Linked DNA regions of Homo sapiens: all the other regions are reported to be linked to region 1. Evidence: microRNA targets listed by miRTarBase, many of them from high-throughput screens and not tested one by one. Region 1 holds a microRNA gene; each other region holds the end of a gene's coding sequence.

What was found. The annotated mature microRNA hsa-miR-105-5p reads UCAAAUGCUCAGACUCCUGUGGU and lies in region 1 at 1,411-1,433, shown strand. An mRNA with a match to its seed (bases 2 to 7 or 8) in the 3' UTR can be bound and repressed. Matches are read on the target gene's strand: a 7mer-m8 pairs with bases 2 to 8, a 7mer-A1 pairs with bases 2 to 7 and ends in A, and an 8mer does both.
Region 2: the mRNA of UBE2D2 is a reported target of hsa-miR-105-5p. Seed matches in the 3' UTR shown: 7mer-A1 at 3,749-3,755 and 7mer-A1 at 3,044-3,050.
Region 3: miRTarBase lists PPP1R3B as a target of hsa-miR-105-5p. Seed matches in the 3' UTR shown: 7mer-A1 at 1,890-1,896.
Region 4: miRTarBase lists EXOC2 as a target of hsa-miR-105-5p. Seed matches in the 3' UTR shown: 7mer-A1 at 925-931.
Region 5: miRTarBase lists PHIP as a target of hsa-miR-105-5p. Seed matches in the 3' UTR shown: 7mer-A1 at 2,867-2,873 and 7mer-A1 at 2,728-2,734.
Region 6: miRTarBase lists DCC as a target of hsa-miR-105-5p. Seed matches in the 3' UTR shown: 7mer-m8 at 2,045-2,051 and 7mer-m8 at 3,569-3,575.
Region 7: miRTarBase lists PLXNC1 as a target of hsa-miR-105-5p. Seed matches in the 3' UTR shown: 7mer-m8 at 2,943-2,949.

The regions. Positions count from the first base shown.
Region 1 is chrX:152,389,601-152,393,697 of GRCh38, reverse strand. It overlaps MIR105-1 (microRNA 105-1), which reads left to right and starts at 1,399; the gene lies at 1,399-1,479. All of the region lies in intron 1 of GABRA3 (gamma-aminobutyric acid type A receptor subunit alpha3), which reads left to right. MIR767 (microRNA 767) reads left to right here and starts at 169; the gene lies at 169-277.
Region 2 is chr5:139,626,532-139,630,628 of GRCh38, reverse strand. It overlaps UBE2D2 (ubiquitin conjugating enzyme E2 D2), which reads right to left. Exons shown (of 7, transcript NM_003339.3): 7 at 2,195-3,873. The coding sequence ends at 3,828. Among named protein-coding and RNA genes, the nearest start is that of CXXC5, 20 kb to the left of the region's middle.
Region 3 is chr8:9,137,388-9,141,387 of GRCh38, reverse strand. It overlaps PPP1R3B (protein phosphatase 1 regulatory subunit 3B), which reads left to right. Exons shown (of 2, transcript NM_024607.4): 2 at 1-4,000. The coding sequence ends at 594. Among named protein-coding and RNA genes, the nearest start is that of PPP1R3B-AS1, 2.0 kb to the left of the region's middle. RefSeq lists an enhancer at 400-899.
Region 4 is chr6:483,428-487,427 of GRCh38, reverse strand. It overlaps EXOC2 (exocyst complex component 2), which reads left to right. Exons shown (of 28, transcript NM_018303.6): 28 at 664-2,274. The coding sequence ends at 757. Among named protein-coding and RNA genes, the nearest start is that of IRF4, 94 kb to the right of the region's middle.
Region 5 is chr6:78,937,298-78,941,394 of GRCh38, forward strand. PHIP (PHIP subunit of CUL4-Ring ligase complex) reads right to left here. Exons shown (of 40, transcript NM_017934.7): 40 at 1-4,033. The coding sequence ends at 3,396. It also overlaps a transcript of IRAK1BP1 not described here. Among named protein-coding and RNA genes, the nearest start is that of IRAK1BP1, 72 kb to the left of the region's middle.
Region 6 is chr18:53,529,985-53,534,081 of GRCh38, forward strand. DCC (DCC netrin 1 receptor) reads left to right here. Exons shown (of 29, transcript NM_005215.4): 29 at 580-4,097. The coding sequence ends at 669. All of the region lies in intron 2 of LOC124904304, which reads right to left. Among named protein-coding and RNA genes, the nearest start is that of LINC01919, 36 kb to the right of the region's middle.
Region 7 is chr12:94,304,673-94,308,769 of GRCh38, reverse strand. It overlaps PLXNC1 (plexin C1), which reads right to left. Exons shown (of 31, transcript NM_005761.3): 31 at 1,095-3,589. The coding sequence ends at 3,485. It overlaps CEP83 (centrosomal protein 83), which reads left to right. Exons shown (of 17, transcript NM_016122.3): 17 at 1-1,072. Among named protein-coding and RNA genes, the nearest start is that of PLXNC1-AS1, 130 kb to the right of the region's middle. RefSeq lists a silencer at 2,843-2,942 and an enhancer at 3,557-4,097.

The DNA of each region.
Region 1 (4,097 bases):
TGCACCATGATTGCCTGAGTATGTGCCATGATATCTCCTCCAGCATCATTGTCATATGCTGTTTGCCTAAATAAGTTGTATTCATGTGTTATGTTTCCTTTATTCATATGTCCTGTCCATCTGGGCATATTCCTCATTGTGTTATTCACTCTTGTATCACACCCACCTGCTTTTATATTGTAGGTTTTTGCTCATGCACCATGGTTGTCTGAGCATGCAGCATGCTTGTCTGCTCATACCCCATGGTTTCTGAGCAGGAACCTTCATTGTCTACTGCTTTACAGGGAAATAGTGTTTTATGCATCGTGTATATGAGTTTAGTATTTACTCATATTCTATGACTCTCTACTCTTAGATCACTTCTGCCTTTTTCTGCACATTGTTTATCTGTTCCAAAAAGACAGATGTTATCTCATGTCACTGGGCTTTCTAATTGTACATCAGTCAAATGCTTAAATGCCTATGATGTGATGGCTGTTCATGCAACATGGCTGTTTCAGCATATATCATAACTTCACCCGTTTAATCATTGCCATCTTCTCCCAGACTAAAGAAAATAATGATTTTTAATCACCAACCATATCCGTTTTGGTAATCATGGTTTCATGTCTACCTGCTCCTGTATCATTCTTTTACTTTATGTCGTGGGATTGTGTAGGTAGCCATCATAGTCAAATGCCCAAATACTAGTGGTGGCTGTTCATGCAATGGTCATCTGAGTATATGGTGTCAGGTCTCTTTTGACATATCTGACATCTACTCATGGACAAAGCTGTTTACCCCTGTACCGTGGCTCTTGTATAAGGCACAATATCTGTCTAAGTAAGCACCACAGCATGGTTTTATTCTCCGAAAACAAGTTTGTGTGCTGTATCTATCTATGCCTCTTAGCTCCTTTGGCATAAATGCTACGTAATAGTGTAAACTACTTTTGTGTACCTGTGTAAGTCAAGATCAAACAGTCAAATATCACTAATGGCTTTCATCAACTTTTGTCTGAACATGTTACACGGTGGGTCCTCTATGCACCTTTGCCACCTACATTTGAAATAATCATTCATGTATTGAGATGTTTTGATCTTGTACTATATCCATCTATGAGGTCTCCACTTATGATTATTTTCTCATAAGATGTCTCTTGGCTCTAAGTGAGCCCTGGCTAATTTTCCATGGTTGTATGAATGTGCTTATGCCCTTTAGCTATGGTCTTCTGCTCATTCATCATGATTTGTGAAAATGCACCATCGTTGTCTACATTGTACTAAAAATGGAATTTTCTGTACCATGAATATAATTTTGTGCACCATGATTTTTTGTCATACAGTGTGTTTGCCTCCTTCTTCGTCCTCAGTATCTACTCCTATATATTGGATGTCAGCTTCTGTTGCAGAACCTGAGTGTGCATCGTGGTCAAATGCTCAGACTCCTGTGGTGGCTGCTCATGCACCACGGATGTTTGAGCATGTGCTACGGTGTCTACTTTTGCTACATTGCCGTCTGCTTCTGGACCAAAGCCATTTGTTCCTGTGCTCTGTGTTTCTAATCTTGTATCACATCCATATGAGGAAGCATGGCACCATCAGTGTATGTGCACAATGCTCACTGCTTGGACTTAAATCCCAGTTCTCCTATTTAATAGTTTGAAATTCTTGAGGAAGTCATTTCACCCTTCTGTTTCTGTTTTCTAAACTGTAAAATAAATAATAATACCTCATAGAGTTGTGAGGATTCAAAGATGCACATGTAGAATGCTTAGATTAGTGCCTGACACATATAAATGATAAGTATTTGCTGATATTGTTATATTATTTGTATTATGTCTCTTTATTCTTTATCATGACTTTTAGCTTGCATTCTGAGAATGTCTGGTTGTGTACCTTAGTCACATGCTAAATTACTGGTGGTGGCTGTCCATTCAGCATGGTCGTCTGATGTTATACCTTGGTTTTTCCTTTTGCACATATACCCTTTACTCCTTTGGCAAAGTCATTCATTGCTGTGTTGTATTTCATTATTCATCGTGTCTTTCTGAGAAAGAATAGCACAGTAGTTGACTACTATTCTATTTCCACCTGTACCTGTATCATAATTGATAGCTCACCTTTCAGTGTATATTGGTGTGTATTGTGGTTAAATTCTCAAACACCAGTGGTAGTTTTTCTTCCATGTGATCATTGGAGCGCATGTCATGGTGTCTCCTACCATTGCCATCTCCTCCTAAACCAAGGAATTCTTTCCCGTATTGTGGCTTTTCGATTATATATTGTGATCATCTGTACAATTTCAACTATGTGGCTATTTTCTTTGTGTCATGTCTGTTTTCTTTTATGTGTAAGTATTGGCTCATTCTCCATGGTAGACTGAGCACGCGTAAGGAATTTCTGCTCATATATTGTGTATGGGGTTGTACTATAGACTTTCGCTCATACACTATGGTTGTGTAAAAATGCAGTTGTCATTGTCTACTCCTGAACTGATAAAAGGATGGAATCATCTGTATCATGAATAACAGTTTGTTAATTTTGACAGTATCGTGTTTGCCTGTGCTTCTGCCATCCTGAATGTCAGTTCATATTGCAGGATTATCTGAGTGTGCCTGTGGTCAAATGTTCTGACTATTGTGACTGCTCATACACCAAGAATGTCTGGCAATGGACTATATATTTATTTATGCAACAGGAATTATTGTCTCTATCAGCAATATAGCCATTAATTCCTCTGTTAAGCATGTGTTTTTTAATTTACCATATCCATTAGAGGTAGCATAGCACCACTGATATATAATAAGGGTAGACTGCATTATATACAAATCACTTTTTTTTGTTTTTCCCTAAAATAATAACATCTACCTCATATGCTTGTTTTTTTAAAGTGCTTAGTGCTTGGTATGTAATAAGTTCTAAATAATTATAATTTTTAATAATATCCTCATCATCGTTATCATCGTTATTATACTAGAATTTTTTCTTCATTCTCTATCATGGTTGGCAGCCTATGTTCTGGGATTATCTTGGTGTGTGTTATAGTCTAATGGTTAAGCACTGGTGGTGGCTTTACAATGCACAAATGTTGTACAACCATTTGCCTTGATGTCATCTATAGGGCCATTGCCATCTGCTCCTGGACTATTTCATGCCATCTTATTTTGAAAATATTGTACCATGCCCCTCTCGGTAAGTACCAGTCTATGGCTTTCTTGACCTACCATTTCTAATTTTTCCTCAAACATACTTGTATGTGCATCACCATAGTTATCTAATGTGCTCACATACCATGGTTTTCTGCATAAGGCATAATTGTGTCTACTGTTGTAATGAGATAGCCATCATTCATGTTATTGAAATAAGTTTATATATCAAATTTATTTCATTTGAATTCCCTTTTTATGGTTTCCTGTCATTGCTGTCAGTTTCTGTATCACATCCTTTAGCTCTGTGTCCTTACTCTCAGCATACACTTTATAGTTATCTGATTGATGACTTTGACGAGCTGAGAGAAGAAGGCTTCAGACGATCAAATTACTCTGAGCTATGGGAGGACATTCAAACCAAAGGCAAAGAAGTTGAAAACTGATTGTATATTAGAAGTTCAAACACCAGGAATGTTTGTTCATACCACATTGCTATTTAAATATATACTGTGTTGTTTTACTTTTTACTATTGCCATTTACTTTGCCCCCAAATCTTTGTTCCTGTGTTGTATTTTTTTAATCTCAAATCTTATCCATGTGAACAAGCTCTAAACGATGTCTCTCTGCTCCTATATTTTTTTTTATCATTTACCATGCTTCCCTTCCATGTACCATATATAAAAAATCACAATTTTCTAAGCATGAGCCATTATAGTTTGATCCTGCACCGAAAATGCCATCTTCTGTGTATTGGACTATGTATTAGCTGATGCATGATGGTTTTTAGGTCCGGCACTGAGGTATTCTTCCCCTCCATCAGTGTTGTCTCCTTCTATATCATCTTCTCATAACATAGTCAAGAGCTCATTTTGCAGTTGTCTTAGGGTACATTGTGATCATATGGTATTCATGATCTCCTTTTGCATCATTGCCATCTGCTACATTCCTTCATATATCAATTACTGT
Region 2 (4,097 bases), not on the chromosome of region 1:
GAGGTTGCAGTGAGCCAAGATCGCACCACTACACTCCAACCTGGGCGACAGTGAGACTCTGTCTCCAAACAACAACAACAAAAAACAAACCTGCTTTCTCCTGCCTAACATCACTCACCAAAATAACCCATCACTTGAAATAGTGTTTCATAAAGGGAAAATGAGGAAATCAAAAGGAGATGGATTCCTAACACTAGTTACAGTTTTCTGTAGGAGTAATAAAAATGCTTACTCCTGATTTGGAAGGAAGGAAAGATGTGTTTATAATCCTGAAGACCTGGGAATGAGAAGAGAGTTTTTTTTGTTTTTTTTTTAAGACTGAGTTTTGCTCTTGTCGCCCAGGCTGGAGTGCAATGGCGCGATCTCGGCTCACCACAACCTCCGCCTCCCGGATTCAAGCGATTCTCCTGCCTCAGCCTCCTGAGTAGCTGGGATTACAGACATGTGCCACCATGCCCGGCTAATTTTGTGTTTTTAGTAGACACGAGGTTCCTCCATGTTGGTCAGGCTGGTCTTGAACTCCTGACCTCAGGTGATCCGCCCACCTTGGCATCCCAAAATGCTGGGATTACAGGCATGAGCCACAGGGCCCAGCTGAGAGTTCTCCTCTTCAAAACTTACCCTGGGTAGTTAAGGGGTGCCATACAGCACACAGAGACAAAGCCAGAGTTTCACCTTAATTACAGACAAGGGACAGTTTATAGGCATTCCAGCCATAATTTAGAAATAATCCATTTCTCCTGACAAGCTACCCAGGTCTCAAAATAACTTGTTGAAACAAAGAGGAATGATTCAGAAAGCAGAGTATTTTAGCAGTTGGAAGTGGAAAAAGAAGGCCTCTATTGCTAGGTTAGTGTAGAGAAAGGGTCTCTCTCTGACAACTACCTTTTCCTTCTCTTCACAGACCTTCCTAACTTCTCTCTCCCCACCCCTACCGCCCTCCTTCCAAGTCTCTGTACTACTCAAAGTGCATAAACTCGCAGGACAATGATACCTTTGACTACTGATTCGCCAATAGCAAAGCATATAAGTATCTGAAGTGACTTCATTTTACCAAAAGACACTGCCCCAGCTTTAACTTGACAAAGTACTTTGGGCTATTAAGAAGCAAACAAAAGGAAACCATACACTTGACGTTCTCCTGTAACTTTTCCAAGATAATCAAGGTTGCTACAGACTGGATTTTACATACGACAAAGTCATAGAAACTTCTGTGAAGAGCAATGTGGTCCAGATGAAAACAACCCTGAGGGATTTTTTGTTGTTGTTGTTGTTTTTGGTGAGTGGGAAAGGTGGCTTCTCTCACTGGGCTTTCTTTCTGGCCAGGCACATATACACAGACTGGACCAAAGAAGCTTCATACTCAAATGGGCAAGACCAAACCCCATTCAAGGGCCTAATGTTGTTTGTGACCATCCAAACCCCTTCAATTGGCACCTGCACACCTGGAGGATGGCTTTCATTTGGCACTTAAAAATACTTAAGAACACTCTTGTGAAAATATCCATATTATGATCTAATAAATGGTAATAAGCTGGCTGCTCTCTAAGATGACAGGCAAATACAGAATGAGCTTTCAGGATCTGTGCAACTGACCCACGGTCAACAGTATGTAGTTAATAGCAAGCCAATAATTGATGGAAGGCTGGGTATGGTGGCTGTCTCTAGTCCCAGCACTTTGGGAGGCTGAGACAAGAGGATCACTTGAGCCTAGGAGTTCAGGACCAGCTTGGGCAACATAGTGAGACTCCTGTCTCTAAAAAAAATTTAAAAATTAGCCAGGTGTGGTGGCATGTACCATAAGTCCCAGCAACTTGGGAGGTTGAGGTAGGGGGATTGTTCGAGCCTAGAAGGTTGAGGCTGCAGTGAGCTGTGCTGTCATGACTCCGACTGCACTCCAGCTTAGGCAAGAGAATGAGACCCTGTCCCTCTCTTAAAAAAAAAAAAAAAAAAAAAAAAAGATGAAGTCCCACTTGCCCATAATACTGAGAATACAGGGTGATTTTAGGCTTAAGCTAAATTCTAACTCCTTTCCCCACAACTGTTAACAGTTAAGCCTTTTCTGCAAAGTCAAGGATGCTAATAAGAGATGCTTGAAATGCTTATAAGAGAACTGTAAGAGGTTTTGGGTTTTATCACACAAGTTCCAAGGTGGAGGAGCAGTGACAGTGAGAGATAAGACAAGGTGAACAAGTTTAAAACCAAAAGCAGTGGACATTTATTCCTTAACTTTTGTGCAAGAGTGTAAAGATGCATTTGAAAGAACCTGATGGCTAGAGCATCAGCCATGGCTTTCAGGTTGGCCTAGTTTACAATTAGGAAAAGAAGGGGGGAAAAAAGGTAACTTGCCTAGTTCACATGAATGATGTTTCTGGCAAACACAGTTGTTTACAAGTTTCAAGCTATATTTTACTAGGGTCAAGGGAAGACTTCAAAAAGCCACATACAGTACAATTTAAAATTGTGTGAACATCCTGCAAATGTTAGTGCAAAGTAATTATGTAGACTCTCCAAACAAGACTGTGCTCTTGTTTCCCAGGTTTGGTCAATGTTGCTCTTTTATAATTACAATCACAGAAGCTTAACTTACCAAATAGCAATGCCTCTGTGTTTTATGTCCTATGTACCAAGGGAATGTCACAAGGTTTTGATGAAATGCAGCTTAGTTTCATTAATAAAGCAAATTTCTTATTGAATTTAACAATCAAGTTCCTGGAATGCTGCATGTGTTGTTTCATGGAAATGCTCTTAAGCTTATGCCTCTAACTTGTTCAATAAAATTACTCGTAAGATATCCTTTTTACAATGTAACTGGAATTGTTTCATGATCTTAAAATGCAACCAGTATAAATGAACATTTCAGAAGTGGGAGAAAATCCACCACTAATCTCAGCTAGACAAACTTCTTAAAAATGAAAAAGCCTATTCACACAAAATTATATGTAATGACTGTAGTAACCAGTTTATTACACAGATTAATCATTCTTGAAAGTACAAGCTCCAGAGGAGCAATTGGGTCTTTAAATATACACAAGTATTTCCATCAAATGAATTTTCACCCTTACATCCAAATAGACCTAAGCGGTTAAAAACATAAGAAAAATAAGAGCTATTAGCTATGTATTAACTGAGAAACCACATACAAACCAAAGAATATGGAAGAGAGAAAGAAGGGCTGAAAGGCCAAAGGTTGAAGGGGTAGGGAGATGTAAAAGAGTTGGGAACAAAGCCCATCACACTTGATGTACTAATAGCTCCAATCCATTTAAATGTTGACCAGTTAAACTTAGACCTTAAAATGCAGGATGTGGGTAGAGTTTAATCTGGTTGGTCATAACTTTCACCTAAGACGTAGCTCCTTCGGAATAAAATGAATACAGACACAGCTTCATGTTCTTCACCTTGCTTTTCATAACTGTTTTGAGTTTAAATGGATTCCACTTAAAAATAATCTCCTATAGGTGAGTGGAGCCTTTTCTTTCCCATCCAAGCACACACCATACCCACCACCCCCCTCACACCTTGCTGTTATCCAAATTTAAGTCAATAAGAAAAGCTTTTAGTCTCACACCTAGGTAATGCCTGTAGAACTGGCTTGTCACACACACACTTCTCTGCTAGGAGGCAATGTTGGTACAGAAGTACAGTATTTCTAGTTTGTTGTTCCAAGTATGTACAACACGCAGCACTGCTGTATCAGGTAAACATGTGCACAGGGGAAGATGAGGCGTGGGCTCATAGAAAGCAGTCAAATGGAAATCAAAAGGACTTTCTCTTTCAGAGTTCCCCTATCTTTATTTGTAGAGGTTATCCAATAATTTCTTTAATTACATCGCATACTTCTGAGTCCATTCCCGAGCTATTCTGTTGTACCTGTACACACAAAGAGAAGCTTGGCTTAACATAGGTGTGGAGTCAGTAAGCAACAGATTCCATTCATTATCCCATCAAGTAACTTGAAGAGAGTAGCTTATAGGACATTCAAGGAAAGGCCCCTTTCTATCCCAAATTTCTGATAAGGATTAATTCAATGATAATGGGAAGGAGCTGTAAAATGTGAAAGTCTCCTTTAATTGCTACTTATAGAGGGTTCTGAT
Region 3 (4,000 bases), not on the chromosome of region 1:
CCATTCAACATCACCGAGCTCCTAGACAACATTGTGAGCTTGACGACAGCAGAGAGCGAGAGCTTTGTTCTGGATTTTTCCCAGCCCTCTGCAGATTACTTAGACTTTAGAAATCGACTTCAGGCCGACCACGTCTGCCTTGAGAACTGTGTGCTCAAGGACAAGGCCATTGCAGGCACTGTGAAGGTTCAGAACCTCGCATTTGAGAAGACCGTGAAAATAAGGATGACGTTCGACACCTGGAAGAGCTACACAGACTTTCCTTGTCAGTACGTGAAGGACACTTATGCCGGTTCAGACAGGGACACGTTCTCCTTCGACATCAGCTTGCCCGAGAAGATTCAGTCTTATGAAAGAATGGAGTTTGCTGTGTACTACGAGTGCAATGGACAGACGTACTGGGACAGCAACAGAGGCAAGAACTATAGGATCATCCGGGCTGAGTTAAAATCTACCCAGGGAATGACCAAGCCCCACAGTGGACCGGATTTGGGAATATCCTTTGACCAGTTCGGAAGCCCTCGGTGTTCCTATGGTCTGTTTCCAGAGTGGCCAAGTTACTTAGGATATGAAAAGCTAGGGCCCTACTACTAGTGACTGCAGGTGACAGGGCGTGGCGGAGCTGCCACAGACAAGCCTAGCTCTGCTCACTGTGCAGTGGAGATGGAAGGCCAGGGAGGAGCAACGTGGAACTTCCATGAGGCCCCGTTTGGGAAAATAAAAGGATCCTCTTCACTTCTTTCTTAAACAGCAAATCCAGCCAGGTTCAGATTACACAACCAGTGTCTCACTCAAAGGAGCAGTGGTGGCTGGCGCGCTTTCGCACTGTGGCAGCCACGAGAGTCTGTGCACGTCTGTGCTGGAAAGGGTATGGATGGGAATCAAGCCTATGCCAGTGCTGATGAAGCTGGAGGAGTCTCTCCTCTGCTCTCCACTCAGATGTGGGACATCAGTCGCCAAAAGCCACTCAGCCCCAGCCACCTCGCGTGAGACCCTCACTGTTCATTGTGTTCATCTTTGGGTGCTCTCTGCCAGCCAGGCCTTTCCTGCAAGCTGCTGTGCTTCCCCGTCCACGTGTATCTCTGCTGTGACACACTGAGCTGACGCACATTTCCAGTGCAGCTGCAGAAGAGAAATGGGATTGGCTCTTGTTTTCTGCAAGTTCATGTTTTGCATTTTATGTTCTTCCACAATTGATCTGATGTTCAGGAAAAGATAATAAAGGCAAATTAGTTAGTGGTTGAGACAGGCATTTCCTCCTCCCGCTTCTTGACCCCACAGATGTATTCCAGCAGAGAGCAACACACCAGTCATCAAAACCCACTGGCTCCTGTGCGGTGTCACAGATTGCAGGGTTCTGACAAGGCAGGACAGTCAAGAGTGGGGACACTTTCAGCTTCTACTTTTGCCTTCTAGGGGGAGCTTTCTAAGTCCCCACATTTACCCCGAGTCACCGGAAAAATCTGATTTTTCCCCCGAAAGCTCAATGACTTTAACGTGCTTGGCTGGTTTGTCTCATTCTTTATGAAAGAATTTTGGGGCCGGGCGCGGTGGCTTATGCCTGTAATCCCAGCACTTTGGGAGGCCGAGGCAGGTGGATCACGAGGTCAGGAGATCGAGACCATCCTGGCTAACACGGTGAAACCCTGTCTCTACTAAAAATACAAAAAAATTAGCCAGGCGTGGTGGCGGGCGCCTGTAGTCCCAGCTACTTGGGAGGCTGAGGCAGGAGAATGGCGGGAACCTGGGAGGCGGAGCTTACAGTGAACCGAGATCACACCACTGCATTCCCGCCTGGGCAGCAGAGCGAGACTCCGTCTCAAACAGAAAAAAAAAGAGAATTTTGAATCTCCTTTCCCAAAGAGTCATCTTTTCTGCTGTGTTTAGGACATTTGATTTGCATATCCAATATCTCCTCGAAACCTTCAGAAAATGGTTTTATCGTGACTGTGATTCACACTATCTAGAACACTTTACCAGCACCCAGGGACATGGACTTGGGTGTTCTTATTTATGGTGTGTATGTAAAGAGATAGGGGAGAAAAACCTCACCCAAGTTCTTATACGTTATTTTAAACGTTTGCCAACTCTGAAATTTCAGAGATTCATTGTTCTTAACCATATTGGACTAAAGTCTGTTGGTTAGTGCTGTTGTAAAAGAGACCTCTGGGGCCGAGTGTGGTGGCTTATGCCTGTAATCCCTGCACTTTGGGAAGCCAAGGCGGGCAGCTCACCTGAGGTCAGGCGTTCAAGACCAGCCTGGCCAACATGGTGAAACCTCGTCTGTACTAAAAATACAAAATTTAGCTGAGTGTGGTGGCAGGCGCCTGTAATCCAGCTACTCGGGAGGCTGAGGCAGGAGAATCACTTGAACCCAGGAGGTGGAGGTTGCAGTGAGCCGAGATCACGTCACTGCATTTCAGCCTGAGCGACAGAGTGAAACTGTCTCAAAAAAGAGAGACTTCCGGGACAGTCATTATCAGATAGGCCCCAAACCTGTGATTTTTCTTGGGCAAGATTGGTGTTTACTTAGGGGTGCTTTAAAAATATATTTTTACAAGTATACTTGTAGGAAGTTGGTTTTTTATTTTCTATTTTTGTTTGTTTTTGGAGTTTGGTTAAACGACTCTTTTATTTTCTGTTTTGCCTTATCTTACTAAAGTGAAGTTTTCCTAAGGCAAGCAAGAAGAGGAGTGGAAGCACAGTTGCCTGGATTTGGAGGCAGAGTTGTCAGGCTTTTCAAGCTAAGAGTCTTGTGCTTGGATTTTCCAGATTAATTTGAAAAGACCTCCCATTTGTGGCTTTGTACATAACCAACAGGCAGATACTGAGTGCCTTGGCTCCTAGAGTTTTGTGGTTGGGTTAGGTTGTTTTTGTTGTTGTTTTGTTTTGGTTTTGTTTTCATTTCTGAAGTTTAAGATGCCTTGACTTTTTAAATGCTCTTAAGGCTATTCGATGTAATTCTTACTCCTAAAACTGGCTGTTCTTAGCCTGAAATCTAATGCTTTGTTTTTTGTACCTCTCCCAGGTGGGTAACACTCTAGGATGACATGATGTTATAATTTTAGGGGAAATCACATTTTTACCTTATGCTGTTACTGGGCAGAACCACGTTTTATGTAAACATACCAGACATCGGGTAACAGACAGTACTTTAAATGTTATAAATTTGGTGATCAGAACTATTAATAGCATAAATCGAACTCAAATGGAAGCAAAACTGATTTCATGCAGGTCCTGAATTTTACTTTGCCTTAAGAAGTGCCCTCCCCACAATGCAGGAGAGGCACAGAGTGCACTGTCATTGACATGTTACCCGACTAAGGATCACTCTGTTCATAAGAAAAAGGCCTGAAGTGACTCTGTTTAATAAAGTCAGTTTAATTTTATCTAATAATGATCTTAAGACATTCCCATGTCAAAATTTGAAATATGGTAATTCAGTGATAACTATCTCTTCTAAAGCAGCCGTAAACCCTCCCCACTACCCGTCTTTCTCCCAGCTCACCCTGGCTTTTTTTGCTGGGGGTGCTGGATGCAAGCCCCCAGCCAGCACACCTGGGATGCTCACCCTGCCGCACAGTTCAGAAGGCAAGTCCTCACCTGCTCGCAAAGACCCTTCTTCTCCAATAAAAGACTCTACTTGCCTGAGTTTCCTCATCAGGGCTGTCATTCAGTGATGTATGGGGGTCTGAAGAATACTGCCTTCTATCTGTCTTCTGTTTACCACTTGCTCCTCTGCTACCCTCCTGCCGCAAACAGTCTTCTTCCTTTTGGCCCAGTTCTGTCCCGTGAAATTCTCAGAAGGCCTCGGGAGCTGCGCTGATGTATTCTCTCCTTGTTTGATAGCTCATCATCAGTAGATAAGCCTACACACTTCAGAGGGTGACAGGTTTCTTACTTGGAGACTTCACTGCACCTTGACTTGTAGATTTGCCTTCAGACAGCTCTTGGTTATGGTTACAAGTGGCCCCCGAGTCCCAGAATCTTTCCCAGGTTG
Region 4 (4,000 bases), not on the chromosome of region 1:
CTGAAAAAAAGAAAAAAAATTAGATGACTGTATCACATCAGTTGGGGAAACAGATTGCGATATCAGGCAGCAAAGCGATTTGCCTAGTGGAATTAGCCCCTAACCCTGCTTGCCCTGGTGGTTAACTCACTGCTTTCGCTCCCCACTCTCTAATACCTGTTAATACAAAATGAGAGGAAGGGAAAGTCAGCAGTGGCTGCTGGGAGATGGGGTTAGGGAAGAGGCTGACTAGAGGGGCAGCAGGGGAAAGGGTGCAGCCATGCCACGTGCTGTAGCCTGTTACACTCCGGTATGGCTTTGCCAGCGTTCATAGAACCATCTAACAAAAAGTGAATTTGAAGGTGTGTAAATTATTTTAGAGTTGAATTTCTAAAAAAGAATAGGCCCAAACATCAGTCTGTATTAGGGAGGAATCTAATCTTGGGAGGGGATAGGAAGGAGATGTTTCTGTACAAACATAAATACGTTATCAGTATATCCTATTTGATCAACTTCTTTGATGTGTTTCTTTTGCTGAGTTAAGGATCCATAGGTAGAACTTTTCAGCTGCCTTCTCCACACAGCAAGCCCAGGCAGAGCCGGGCACTGGCTCCCCTGGTGTTTTCTTGCGTTGCTAGGCCGCCCCATCTGTCGGGCTGTAAAACAAGTGTCTCCGTCCTGCAGGTTACTGGAAGAGCTCCTGAACAAGTTCAAGAGTAGCATGCACTTGCAGCTCACCTGTTTCCAAGCAGCTTCTTCAACCATGATGAAAACATAAATATCTGCCACATAAAAGAAGTCCAGGAAAATAACACGTAATAAGACTGTTCACTCTCTAAGTACCCTAAAGGTATTTGGTGTATTAAACATTGGGTTTGCCATTTTTCTCTTTTTTCTTCCTCTGACTTCGAAAATTGTTGGTATACATTTCAACCAAAATGACCTCATTTGAAATGCCCAGGAAGTATTTGTTTTGCCATTCTTACTAGATCAGATCCTGTATGACTTTAAAATACATTTTAAAATATATTTTGCATCTCAGCAGAAGGTTGAGTGCTGCAGGAAGAGCTGCTTCTGCAGGGAGTTTTCTGGAATGGCGTGGCACATATTGAAGCATTTCTCAGTGTCCCGTTCACGGAAGCGCAGGCAGCTCCCACGACACACGGAGAGACTGACTGATACGAGATTTGGAAAGCTATGTAGACATCTTTGGAGCTCTTACTGTCCTAAACTGTACAGCTGTGCTTAAAACCCTCATTTCATATAAATGGCCTTAAGTTTTCTAATTCAAGCGGGTTTTTGGAAAAATTTATGGTCTCCATTAAAATACATATTACAACTGGGGTAGATTATTTGTGGTCCAGGTGTCTGTGATTTAACTTTGCGTTTTGCTATCTGATTTTTATTTTTCACAGGGCTAAGCATGAGCTTTCATTCTCACTCACTCTTAATTTGTCGTGCGTCACTACACATGCACGTGTTGCAGTCCCTGAGGCCCTGTGTGTTATCTGTGATGGAGTGTGAATGTGTAACGGGCACTGTGTTACACTCTGAGGTGTTGGCGGGGCGGTCGCAGACTTCAGGGTCCCCTAACGGAAAGGCCAGGCTCCGCGTGGACGGCCAACTCCCTGCCCGCTCCTTCAGCAGGTGACTGTCTCTGCCACTTCTTACCTGCTGAAGGATCTTGCTCAGTAGCTGGAACAATGCTGCTGTCACACAGTCTCTTCTCTGAAACTTCAGGATGCTCCTTGGTCACCAGGCAATGGGAGCTGTAGACCAGCCGCATGCACTTGCCCCACATTCACTGCTGACTGGCTTCACTGGAATAGGTTCAGGTCACCGGGACTTCTCTCAGAGTCAGCGGCCCACCCAACTCCCTCATACCGTCGCATCTGAAAATTTTCAGAGAGGAATTCTCTTTGTAGTCGGCTTGTCAGGGTTTTCAAGTTTTTCTATGGTTATTTTTAAATCTCTTTTTTTAAATGCTAAAATTAATGTCCTCATTAATGCAAGTAATTTTAGAGCACAGTGTAGCCATGTACAGTTTCCATTATTTAAAATAAATAAATGTGTTGGTTCATTTGGTGTATGGGGGGACATCATGGTAACTGGAAATGAAAGTTTAATCTTTCACAAATGTGCTTGATAAAGCTGTTAAGAATTGTCTTTCCTAAGTATGTTAACTGTTGTATCTAACTCAACTGTGAGCTAAGTTTAAAAACTGCAATCATGAATGTTTGTGATATTTTAAATATCTACTACAGCACATTCAGCCAATAAAGAATCTGCCTTTAATGTAAGTTGTAATTTACTTGACATTTTTCCCTAAGTGTCTTTATTTCAACATTTTCATATTTCTACTGTTAACACCCAAAATACTTACATTCTGGTTAACCCTGTATTGGTAAACACATTGTCAGAAACCATCTGTCAGGTCCTGCTAATTCTGTTTGCTGGGGACTTACCATGTGCGAGGCACACCATGAAGTGCCTCGTTGAATCCTCACAACAGCCTTATGATACATGTGGGCTAGCTTACCGCCACGTCCATTTAGCAGAGGAAGGAATCAGGGCTTAGAGAGAGGTTGGTGACTTCCGTAAGACTGCAAGGCAGTAAGTAGCAGGACTCATGTTCACACTCTGGCTCTGTATGTCCTTGACTTCACTACTGCTCAGCTCTTCCTTCCAGCGGAATATGCTTTCTGACATCCATCCACCTGGGTCACAGCTCAGAGAAAGTTCATCAATTCCAGAGGCTAATAAACAGTAGCAACACGGAAACCGGTAGTGCTTTTATGGCTCAGAGTGGAAGGTAAAGGCCTAAAAACCCCATACCCAAGTGAGGGAGTTCAAGGACTACTATTCCAACAAGTCAGGGGGGACTTCTTGGAAGAAAGGGGGATTTCAAGAGCTACTTGAGTTACAGAACCCTGGTTTAGTGGGTAAGAGGAGATGAATATGAAATAAGTTAGATGAAAGCCGAGAGAGAAACCAGGACCTGGAGCAAGTTAACGAGGCAGCTGAGAAAACAAATTAGGGAGGTTCAAGGTACTTCAGTGCTCCAGTGGCATTTCATTTCCAGCACACCCATGTTCTTTGTGGGTCACAGCATGGCTTCATGTGAGTTAGCTGAGCTGGCCTCACTTGAATGGGAAAGAGCTATTAGAAATCACTTGGTTTTTTACTAAGACTTTCTTTATCAGTGTACCATGAAAGAGCATATTCTAGAAATGATTTGGGCATTGCAAAACAAGCATCATTGCCTTAGGCTGAGCACACTGACTCATTCTCCTGTCTCTTGTCATCTTTGCATGTAGATTTTTTTAAAGGGAAGAAATAGAAGAGATTATATTTTTATTCTGGATTTGGTACAAGGTGGTGGTGTGTATTTCTGTTTTGATCACGTGCTATGGGATATTCTGTTAGTTTCATAAGCGTGTTGTGTAATGTTTTCAGAAAAGTTACAAATTTTAACTAGTTTTTAAATCAAGATTAGGTTTCTAAAAGTCAAATATATTTTATGTAATATTCATAAAATAATTATGCATAGACTAAACTTGCATACATTTTTGTCACTGAACATTTATCTGTTGGTTCTGTTGCAAAGATTTTCATATAGATCTGTGAACTGCTCTGAAAGATATATTTAATATATCACTCCTCAATTAGAGCAGCAGCCATAATTATTTTAGCTTTGCTTTAAACACAGTTGCATATTACTCTATACTAGGGCCATTATGCTTTTTGTGTGCTGATCTCATCTCATTTCTGCTCCCCCAGAGGAGGATTTATTACATTGAGGTTTATTACGTGTATTACTGGAAAGCCTTTCTGTACCTGGCCAGGTTAGAAATATATAGCAATAAACATCTTACGGACAAGACCTGGGTCTTTGGGTAACTTGTTTGCAGTTTGGCTAATGAAAGGCAGTAGGATATCAGAGTGTCTTTCTCCTGTCTAGGCACAGAAAATCCTAGACAAAGTGGGCAGTGAAGCTTGTCTTGTGCCTTCAACAGTGTTT
Region 5 (4,097 bases), not on the chromosome of region 1:
GTAAACATTGTTAACTGGAGAAATTAATTTATATTACAAATCATATCTGAAAACATGTAAATGCTGCTAACATATAAGATAAAAATATTTGAATACATTTCTTAAAATGTCTGATTCCTCTACTGCACTGCAGATGAGGGACAGTTCTAGATGTTAACATACATGCTGCATAAAGATATTTTCTCTGATTACTGTATCTTATGTAATTCATTTCCAAGTGATAACTAAATTTAGTCAATCCCAAGTCTCAGATGTTACCTAATCCAGCTCACAAATATTCCACATACTTATTTACTTGGATTGGAGGAAGACAGTTTTATAATAATGCCAGCAGTCTTTAAATTTGTAGTGAAGTTGTGCAATAAAAACAATTGAAATAAGGCCAATCTTTAGTTTATAATACATGCAGAAAATAGTCCAATGCCACTATAGCAGGTCACAAAGGATAAAATTTTAAAAAGCTATGTATCTATTGCCCAGGGCTGTGAGTCTCTGATTAGACTAAATATTTAAACTAATGCTCCACTGAAACTTTTCATCTGGGACTTGAGAATGTTGGAGTTGAGGGAGAGAATACTAGGGTTGGGTACTTAGAAATACCTAAATTGGTTTACACTTTCCATGCATGTAAGAGTTATATTTCTGAACTTTCAGTAAATTGGAGATGTTTTTATTGCTTACCTAAGACAACTGCCAATATTTCTTTCTGGCCTATTAACAGTACATACATAGTGTTACTGCCTCAAAGAGGATTATTTTCCCAAGTGGTAAAGAAAACAAAAATATGGTGATGACTTAAATTTCTTAATTCAACTTCTGTAATGCATAGAAGCTAAATTATAAAAATATAAAATCTAAATATATTGGTATTACTAATACATGTTTAAGTGTTTCGGTTACAAAGAATCTGATCCAAGTTACTGTGCTTTACTAAGAAACCAGTGTCTAATAATGTCCAAATAAGGTCATAAATATACAGTGTCTGTAGAACAGGAATAATACATTTACATGTTATAGGAAAGATGGTAAATACTCATTTCTTTGCTTGAGTTGGAATTAACACATACACTGTACTAGAGGTATATTCCACTCTAAGACTGTGTACGCTCTTCCTTTTTCTGTACACAACTTAAAACTGTACATTTTTTTTACAAAAATTGATTTTATAGCCTATTATTTTTTTCTTAACACAATGCAGATAACATCAGGAAATTACATATTTCAAATAGATTGCCTTCAAAAGCAACTAATTAATGACAAATTTCAAACATACACTATTATTTTCAAGAATGGTGTAACTGAAAGACTCATTTTTCTATACAATCAAGCCATCCATTTCTGCATTATGAAGAGTTTAACTACTGAATTTTAATTTTATAGTTAAATATATTTGTTAGAAAAAAATAAATATACAAAAAACCTGAAAAATTTGAAATTATTTTTCAACTGCAAAATCTCAGCAATGCAGTCAAGATCTGGAAAATGGTTTACTTAATTTCACAGGAGAATTTCTGTACAAATTTAGTTACAAATGATCTAAAAAGCCCAAATGTATCACTTTTTCATTCTTCACGACAGTTAAATGACAGCTAATATTTATCCTTATCAGAAATAATTATGTAATGTATTTTGCCAAGGTTCAATTGCAGACTTTATTTTTCTACATCAGGGTCATGCTGATACATATTTTCCCCATCCTCACTTTTTAAAAATGTAGTATCTGAAAATTTTGATTACATTTTTGTACCATACCAGTCCTCAGAAAATACTACATTCTTTAAATTTTTAAAAAAATGGACAGTAATTTTTAAACAATAGAAATGGTAAGTATGTTGGTTTTTAAGGTATAAAATAACTAACTGTACCATAAACAAATAAATAACTGCTTTCCTTTTCCATAGCAGTACATATAGCAATACATTCTCCTAAGTCATATAGTTATCATTTACAATAGACAACTTAATTTTACTAATGATGCAAAAAATAATAGAATACAAGGCACAATCATTAAATGGAGTTTTTCTTTAGGGTGTATATTGACATACCAGCATGATAAGGATACCGTAAAAAGTGCAGAAAAAACACAATGTGCAATGAGACCACTGTATAAAACATGATTGCATAAAAAGTGATTTGGCCTATTTTAACCTTTAATAATTGAAAATAACCAATTTCCCCCTTAAAATTAAACTATAAAGTATGACATTTTAAAATTATTTTTATTCTACTGCTATCTAAAAAATCCTGAAAAAAGAATTTATACCTGGGTAATAGTATATAAGTATGTGTTTGTATATATATTTAATTATACCCATTTATCAATATATACACATACACACACAGACACGTTTCTTTGTAAGTCATTTTAGGCTATTAGATATGTCTAAAGTTTAGAAATGACATTAATCCAGATCAACAAGTAAACATCAAATCCCATACCTTTTTTCCTGTATTTTCCTTGAATCCTTTAACCACTTAAACATTTCCTCTAGAACATCTCTGTCAAAGGACCCACCAGTGCATTATTTTCTATTAGTACCAAAAAAAGATATATCTCAGCATAACTCTTTAATAACTTGCTCTTTAGAATATATAGCCTTTCCAATATTGAAAAGTGTATGCTGTCCTGACGTCAAAAACAGGCTTTCCACTGCACTGATTCTCAGTCTTTGGCACAATAAACAGAGATTGAGTGATATAAGAATCAAGGTCTGAAAAATTAGACAGTCAAATGTTTTCCAATGTGGATATGTTTCCCTTCATCAGTACATTTTCTCTTGTTTGGCAGAAATGGAATAAAGCAAAAGCCTCCTCTAGATACTTTGTAGATGAACATTCTATAATTAAAATTAAACTGTTTAGGGTATCAAATGGTGGAAATTTTATATTTATCTTTTAGAGGAAACATTTCTTAATTCACTGCTACTCTGTATAACATCTATCTTTTAGGGGCATGACTTGTATCAATAGAAATGTACCTCACTTGGTCAAAAATAATTCATTTTAACATGAAATGCTCTATCACTAGGAATATTATGCTCCTAAAGAGTGTAGCAGAATTGTCTTTTCTATAAATAAATCAGGAATTCATTATAGATCAATTTCTTTCGTTTCAAACAGTGAATGAAATGAATGTGAAAATGCATAACCTATCTAAGGGCAATAAATAGCAAACATTTAAAATATATATGTATATATTTATATATATATATATATATTCATTTAAAGAAGTGAAGTGTCTCGTAAGTTTGTTTTTTTTTTTTTTTTTTTTTTTGCAAATCAAATCATAACATTCCCTACTCCACCACAGCAGCAAGGAAGCAGAAGCCTTAGTTCTACTTATTCCTTAACTGTACCTGCTTTATAGATTTTGAAGTAAAATATTTTGGTACAAGTTACCAACCAATTAAATTAGCTTTTGCTTTTTCAGTCAACTTTCGGACTCGTCCTCTACTAGAAGTTCCAAAAGTTAAAGAGGTGTCTTCGAACAACAGCTGCCTTTGCTCCTCTTCAGAGTCATCCTCATTATAGAAAGCTGTCCTTCGACCTTGATTTCTAGTTCTCATGTGGGGTTCAGAGCCTTTGAGTTCTTCAAACTCTTCTTCCTCATCTATAGGATCATCTATCTTTTTTCGGTTACTTCTCCTTAACACTTTGACACTTGCAGGGACTAGGAGATCTGCATCTAATTTTTGTGTCTTCATCTTCCTTTTGGGCTTCCTACCTCCACGATTCTTTTTCTGTAACAAATCTTCCTTTACATTATTAGTTTCAGAAAGAAAATTGCATGTTGAAGAAGGAAGTACTTCATCTCTGATGGGATGCACATTATTTTGCTCTAAATCTTCTGGCTTTGCATACTGTAGCTTTTTGGGCTTTCTACCCCTTTTCTTGTGTATAATTTCACCACTATTGGTATTAACTTCTACTTTAGGTTTCCTTCCAGGTCCCCTCTTCACAAGTTTTGATGGCTGTCCTCCATGGCCATTTACTTGAATGGTTCCTGGTACAAGAGCGTTGTTCTTACAATCTCCTAAAAGGGAACAACAGTACACTTAATATATGGAGTTTCTTTTTTTGTTTGACTCTCAAACTTG
Region 6 (4,097 bases), not on the chromosome of region 1:
CATAATCTCCAGACGTTTCATTGGCCAAGGCAAAGCCCGCTGAGTTCTCACATACAAAAAAAAATGTATCTATGTCATGATACAGAGAAAAAATATTCTGTTCATATCTTGGTTAACCTAGTAAGAGGAACAGGAGCTAATGTATTGAATATCTACCATATGCCAGACCCTATCATGGGTACTAAACATGTTACAGGAGGCTCAGAATAGCCTATGAAATAGATGTCATTATCATTTTATAGATGAAGAAAATTACGTATCAGAGAGGTGCACTCACTTGTCTAAGACCACACAGCTAATAATTGGGAGAACTTGATTTGAAACCCAATCTTTTTGACTCTGAAACATCTTCCTTGTCACAGGTGGAGATGGAGTGGGTGAAACAATATGCAATCTCTTATTATCCCCTTTTATTACCAGCATCTTCATTCAGTGAGTATATTCCAAGGACAGCCCTGGCTGTGGTCTCCTAGGTCAGACTTGGGAATACGTAGCACCCCAACTAGCTGTGGCCCCGGCCTTCATAAAAGAAATGGATCAATATTTGTTACTAACTCTTGGCTCTCATTCTCTTTATAGGTGTATGAACAGGATGATCTGAGTGAACAAATGGCAAGTTTGGAAGGACTCATGAAGCAGCTTAATGCCATCACAGGCTCAGCCTTTTAACATGTATTTCTGAATGGATGAGGTGAATTTTCCGGGAACTTTGCAGCATACCAATTACCCATAAACAGCACACCTGTGTCCAAGAACTCTAACCAGTGTACAGGTCACCCATCAGGACCACTCAGTTAAGGAAGATCCTGAAGCAGTTCAGAAGGAATAAGCATTCCTTCTTTCACAGGCATCAGGAATTGTCAAATGATGATTATGAGTTCCCTAAACAAAAGCAAAGATGCATTTTCACTGCAATGTCAAAGTTTAAGCTGCTAGAATAGTCATGGGCCTTTGTCACTGCAGTGACCACACTGTCATAACTAATACCTATGTTTTCCTTTGTCAAGGCCTGTTGTTTAATGTGTAGGTCTAGTCTTACAAAATGCAAGTGCATTATTTAAGCCTGTACCATGCCATGGCAAACCAGTGCAAGCTCACTATTTTGTTTTCAACTTAAACATACAAAGCACCCATGGGAATCTCTCATGCCATAGCACCAAAGGATTGGATGTTTTCCTTACAGCACAAAAAGTAAATAGTAAACAAACAAAAGGCAGAGAATGCTTATGTTTGTAACTCAGTCATTCATCTTGCACAAGTGGTGGATATTAGTGAGTGGCTAAAAATTCACCTATTTTGGCAAGTATTTGTAAATCCACCCTTGGTTAATATGTATGTCTGGAGTCCAGGAATATAAAAATCTGCAACTAGTGGCATTCTGCCAGCAGCAGTACATTTCTGGAAAGAGGATATAATATGCAATCTTCTCAGACACATGGTAATTATATGCTTAAGCTTGTAATAGGACAGTTTTCAATTTGGGTGGCTTTTGTGCCATACCACACTGTGATACAATTTCAAAGCTTCACTAAGGCCATCTTCCTTAGGAGTTTGGCCAGAAGAATGCCCCCACCCCTTCACCCCATCCCTCCCTGAGTTCTCCTTGGCAACTAGCGTTGGGTGAAATGGCCAGCTCCACATGTCATATGGTGCACTGGCCAATGTCGCCTGTCTTCTAATCCCGTAGAAATGGCAGACTCCCTGAGAGCAGGAAGAGAAGGAAAATAAAAGGTAGCTTCTAACAGTACCTTCTCTTAAAGAATGCCAACTCTGCCTACAGGGTCAGTGTTGGCAAGCATTGGCCACCAGACCCTTTTGTTAAGGGAAACTTTTACACTACACCTGTGTCAGAGTCAGGGGGAAGCAGAGGGGCAGGTGCCACCTGACACTTCCGACATGTAAATCCAGCAGATACTTTTCAAAGCAGCATCTTAAACTGTGGACTACAGTTTTAAACTTCTATTGCCATGTTTATCTACAGCTTGGAACTAGCTAAAATTAAGAACATTTTGTATGCAGCATTTTAGTTTCTGAATTTTCAGCTGCATTTGGAGTTAATCCCTGTTTATGCAGCTGAATCGCCAAAAGGGAGCTAGTTTGCATATTTATCAGTTAGGTGACTTGAAAACCCAATGAGAGAGTTTCAGCTGAATTATTCCTTTCAGCTCTGCCTTTGATTTCAAGCTTGAGTAGGTCATAATTTTAAAAGAGCATGGAAGGGATAGGATCTTTACAACCTAATAGCTCCTTTTATTAGGTGGGTAATTATATATGAATCCCTGAATAAAATATTTTGAGCAAAATGGCACTGTAACAGAAGTAATAATTCAGTTTATTTTTTTACAGTTTTATGTCGGGAAGGAAATCTGATGTCAAAGAGAGGGCTGTTCAAATGGTTCATTAGAAAGTCCGGTCCATTTGCGAATTTGTTCCTTCAACAAGAGTGCTCATTCAAGTTACTCAGATTTTCTGGAAGTCTTTTCTGAAGAGCTATGTGATGTTGTTCTATGGGACAGACTACTCTTATTTAACATCTGGGCACTTAGGTAGACAACCTTCTACTGACCTGGAATAAAGTGTTTCCTAACATAATATTGAATTATTCAGAAATAATCCATTACTTCAAAAAAGAAAATATTCATTGGGCTAGCCCAACCTTCTCTAGGCCCTAAGAATTATTACCTCCCCTTTCTAATTCTAGCAAACATGGAACATTCTCCTTAGGCACTTGACACCCACGAGGGTAATCCTGAGTGCTCAGTTTGGAATAGGTTGCAAATCTCAGATTTTAGGGATTGAGTCACACCTTCAATCTATAGAATGAAGTTGACCAATTAAAAAAAAAAAAAAAACCTATCATTTTCACAAATTTCTAGATCCTTCTAGTCAAAAATAATTATTTAGGAAATAAAATTTTTAAAAATCCATTTAAATACATGTTATTTGTCTTCAGTGGAAGTTATATTTCTGCTGCATGCTTTTGAAACTTTCTTCATTAAATAGAATGGTTTGTCTTAGTAACTGGCAATGCCAGTATTAGCACCATGCATTTAATCTATAATACAATCAATTTAAACATCCTCAAAAAACTCTAGTATCATTTACCTGGTAGTATTAATATACAATGATGTCACCACAACTTTTGTATAACTCTGTTCCCTTTACCCTCAAATGATTCATATATGTATATAATTGCCTGCCCAAGTTTTCAGGTAACTTATTAATTTCCCAGTCTCCTGATCTCTTGACAAGAAGAAACCTGTGAATACTGCAAACTAGCCTCTGACTTCCTCCTACTGAGTCTAGTTCATGGTATCCAGGACTCTTTATGCTCATAACTCTCTCTGATTCCCATTGGGTGATACCTGACAGCCAACCAGCCGCTCTGCCACCAGAACTCATTTCTCCCTGAAAAAGAAGAAAATCATATTTGGCAGAGCATTCTCTGGTCTGCCCTGTAATGTGCTTAAATGTCAGGCAACATCCTCTTTTTTTTAAAAAAAATGGTATTTTTCTTTAAATTTCACCCTAATAAGAAAGCTATTTTCTCTCCTCTGCAGAAATTTCTGCATTTGTGAAACTTATAAAAATTTAGATAGTTCAAATGTATAAAGAATATTTGGATGATGCTCTAGCCAAAAGTTAAATATTTCGTAGTGAATCATAGCCAATAAGAAACCAGTCATACTTGCCTCTTTGAATAACAGAGATATAAGCTTCTAGAATATTTAAATAATGAAGTTTTACATTTGGGTATTATAAAATGCATACTCAATTGAATGAGCTGAAAAAAATACCAAGCCAGTGATATAAGTGGAGATTTATTAAGGATTCCTGTTGAGTATATTCTTAGTTTCCTCAAAATAGGGATTATTCAAAATTAGGTGTATGTTCAATCTCCTGCTTTGGTTCCAGCTACACAAGGAGAGCCATCCTGTGCTAGTGTGATGTTTCAGACAACATTCTGAAACTAAAATGTTTGGCACTTATTGGCTTTTCCAATAAAGAATCTCTTAAGTACAGGTATTTCTGGAAGCTGTTGGTGTCTGTGCTTGAAGATGATTGCTGATACTTATCCACCCTTTGGGTACTTCTGT
Region 7 (4,097 bases), not on the chromosome of region 1:
CTCAGTAAAACTTGACATTTTAACCTGTGGCATTTAGATACTTTTTACTGTTTGCCAAAACACTTGAATGTGCCTCAAGAAAAGGTACCTACTACATGCTGTATTGTATGACTGTCAGGATTTTAAGATTATACAAGTGAAGCATTAAAAGAGAAATTCTCAGAGATATTTAGAATATTTGACAATGGTTTGAGAATGTAAAACAAAAAGGAACTAGTTAGAGTCAAGTTTTAAAATTTTTACTTTGTTGAATTTTTTTTTTTGGCATTTTGAGTGAAATATAACTATCATTAATTCTCTCTTCATCTTTGAGATGCTTGGCCATAACAGGGTCCATACACATCTTCTGGTTTACTATATACAAAAACTGTAGTTGAAAAAAGATGACAATTTAAAAGTCAGCCTAAAGAATGTAAAGGTATCTATATACAAAAGGCTACCTTTTCTAAAATCTGTGTGCACATAATTAAAGAGCTTAATTTTTTTTTAATCGTGTGTTTAATTTTACATCAACCATATAGCATATATTTAGCAATATGACAGTCTACTGATTTTGGCTTTGTTAGAATAGAGAATAAGTGCAAATAATTAAATCCTATGGCTGTATTAACAAGGGGGCCATTGATTATAAAACTTGAACTCAGGTCCTTTTATAAACATTGTTGGTATTTAACTTTACTTCCCATTACTGTGGATCTAACCAAATAATTATGTGTTTTGTGTCCCTAAGTATGCTCTCATTTTTTTTGGTCTACACCCATTGGAAGCCTTTTTAATGTGACATCTTTTAGAGGAATTCTGCTGGAATAATTTCATGTTAACGAGGCTAAAGCTCAAGTCTCCCAAATTAAGTGGAATGTTCATTATCCCAAGGTGTTCATAGTCAAAAGTCCCAGTTGATAGTGAAGAAGGCCAGGACTGTAATTGAGCAGTCCTTAGCACCATTTAGCAAACTAGGTTTACTTACTACATAATATAGCTGCTTATTCACAGCATATACAGTGACACCTTATCTCTGAAAAATAATTTCCACGGAGCCACTTAGAATAAAAAAACTATTATAACTAGAAAATTGAAAAAAAAAAAAGACAGTCCACAGTTACATCAAAATGTTTATTTTTTGGATATAGACATTTAAAACATTCATCTCCAAGAACAGCTTCAATCAGGTATACAATAAGAAATAGACTTTAAATCCTAATACAGAAAAGGTAACAGAATTTTTTTGAATGCTGCTGTAGACACTAGTGTTAGAAAAAAAAGTTTATAAATGGTTTTGCACCAAAAAAATATGCAAAGAAACTTGAAAATAGAAATTGTTTGCCATTTGTTGCTCTGGTTGCTGTTTAATATAGACCCAGTGACTGATTGTCTTCAGCACACATCTAATTTGGCCATTTACTGCATTTGGCTAATGTGATCCAAAATGTGATCTAGATAGTGCTTTTCACTGGAGGATTGACAAACACGCTACATACATTAGTGAATCTTCATACCACCTCAGTGAGGTAGCTTAGAAATATTATACAGAAATTGAGGCACAAAGAGGTAAGTGACTTGCCCAAAGTTCCCAACAGCACAGTCCCTGGAAGAGGAGGTAACTCTCCACACAGGACTCATGTGCCAGAAAGCTGGACAGGGACACCCTCATGTAGCATTTAGTAAATACTTAGATAAAGCTGTAGCTGATCCTTTGAGTTTTCAGTACCCTAAAGTAGTAGGGGAAGTCTTTTGGGCAACTCTCCTACCCTTGGCTCTCAACTTTCCTACTGTTGTTCTCTTATGAACTCCTTCACCTCTTTGAAGACTGTAGCAGCCTTCAATGGGGACCAGACCTCTCACCTTTATTCTGATCTGTCATCTATTTGGTAGTTTTGTTTGTTTGAGGTGTGTCCGTTGGACAGACAATGGTCAAAAGCAACAGGATTGGGAAGGTGCCTATCAGGGTAGTAACTGCTTATTTTCTCTGATCAGTTTGTTGAGGTGTCACCTCTCTCATGCTTTTCCAGATAATACAGAAGCAAAAAGGAATTGCCTTTAAGACAAATTCATATTTAAATCCTAATGCTCCATACAGTGTTGGTAAATGATTTCAAGGAATATGTGATCAATGTTATTTGACTTGAAAAAATTTTCTTTCCTAGATGGGGGATTTGGAGCACCAAGGGTAAAAGGTGCCTGCCACAAGAAAAGCTCAAGAGTTGCCAATTATGCTGTTTACTTCTTCTGGTTTAATAGAAGGAAAACACAGTGGTATTAAAACTGGTCATGAGCAGCAAAAATTCAGGAATTAAAAAATCAGCACTAAAAAGACTACAGTATAACTGGATAGAGAATTCTTTAAAAAGAAAGGCATGAATAAAATGGGTATTTTAAATTCTTTCTCCTGCGAGGAATACTTTCAAAAAGTACATAGTAAGACTAAGATACCAAGTTGTATACTAATATTTTTCAGGCCTTGGGCCTCAAATATATATATTTATATATAATACTCCAGTGTGAACAGCAATTCGATAAAATGTAAAATGTATCTTTTTTTTTTTAAATCACACACAAGTATTCATAACCACAGGGTTCACCAGAAATCTAAAGCAAGGAGACACTCACTCATATAGAAATGGAGTTACTCTTCCACAGATCGTTCTGATCAAAGGTTTTGGAACAGAAATGAATTAATGATTTTTTTGTATAATATCCAACATGTCCACTATCAAATACATTTAGTATGAAAAAACAGATGAAGAAAAGGAACATACATTAGGACAAAGTATCTGGTTAAAATGCTGTTCATTTAAATAAAGCCCACTCTCCTTACTTTAGAGCTCCTTGGTGAAATGGAGGTGAGTTTGATGGAGTGCAGTTGATGACCACTGAAAAACACGAGCCCTTTCAACAATGTTGCAACACTGTTAGTTTTTGGTTTAAACACACACACACACTCACAAATGCTAAGTGTACACTACCAAATTCTGCGGTCAGCTTTTCCAAGAACTACTGGGGAAAGTTTCAATGCTGCAAATCCTCGAGGTTGCCCTAACACCCCCACCTTGTTTCCAAATGACTCATTTCACATTTTGTTTTGAGCACTGGCAGTATCCCTTTACAATGCAGAGGTGCAGTGTAGCACAAGTGCTACATAGCTGTAGTTTTCAAACAAAACCACTTATATCATTGTGCTTAAGTGGAGACTGTAGTTACAATACTGACATTCGCTTACTGGCCTTGTATTCTCTGTAAACAAGGAGGCTGTTTGCAACAACCACTTCAACTCTATTTACAGAAGGGTTCCCACGGTATACACACAGGCACAAGGGTTGGTATGCTTTCTAAAAGCTGTGCATGTGCCTTGGTCTCTTAAAAAGACAGTGCCCAAAGTGGAACCTATGTGCAAACAACAAATTAACGACACAGAGTAGCTCAAGCAGCCATTTTGCTCCCAAGTCGTCTGAAGAACTTTGCCAGATTAAGCCAGGCCCCAGAGTGCTTACATCCACTTGCATTTCTTCTTTTCATCAAATAAGACTTTTACATGCAAGAGTTGTTTCTGAGCTTCTTCCAGCCCTCGTTCTCTTTCTAGTTTATTTAGAATCTGTTGACAATTAGAACAGTTATTTTAGATATTGTGGTTTTAGCGTTACAATTCTGTTTTTTGCATACCTGATGCTGTGAGTGGTAAAATCTGTATGAAACAGATGCCAACATTTTCTTCCATCATTTACATACTCACTTTGCAAGTTGTTTTGCTAAGTCCTTATCACAGGATCAACAATACCTTGGCTTAAAATAGAAGCTCGCAAGAAATACCAACTATTTGCTTACAAATATGGGGCCAGGCTTCCTAGGCCCTGCTTTATGCATTATGTCACAGCCATTCCAAGCACAGCAAGCATTCCTGGGCAGCCAACATGCAGGCAAGTATTTCTCCTTAAATGCAGCAGGCAGGGACATCCTGGTCAGAGACAGATCCTTCCCTTCCCTCCCATCTGGGCAGTGTAGTCCCTCCTCGTGCTTCCCTTCTCTCCCCTGACCCCTGGAACGAGGGATGCTTATCATGTTTAAGAACTCATTGCCTCTACCCTACCTTAGAGCTTCACTTC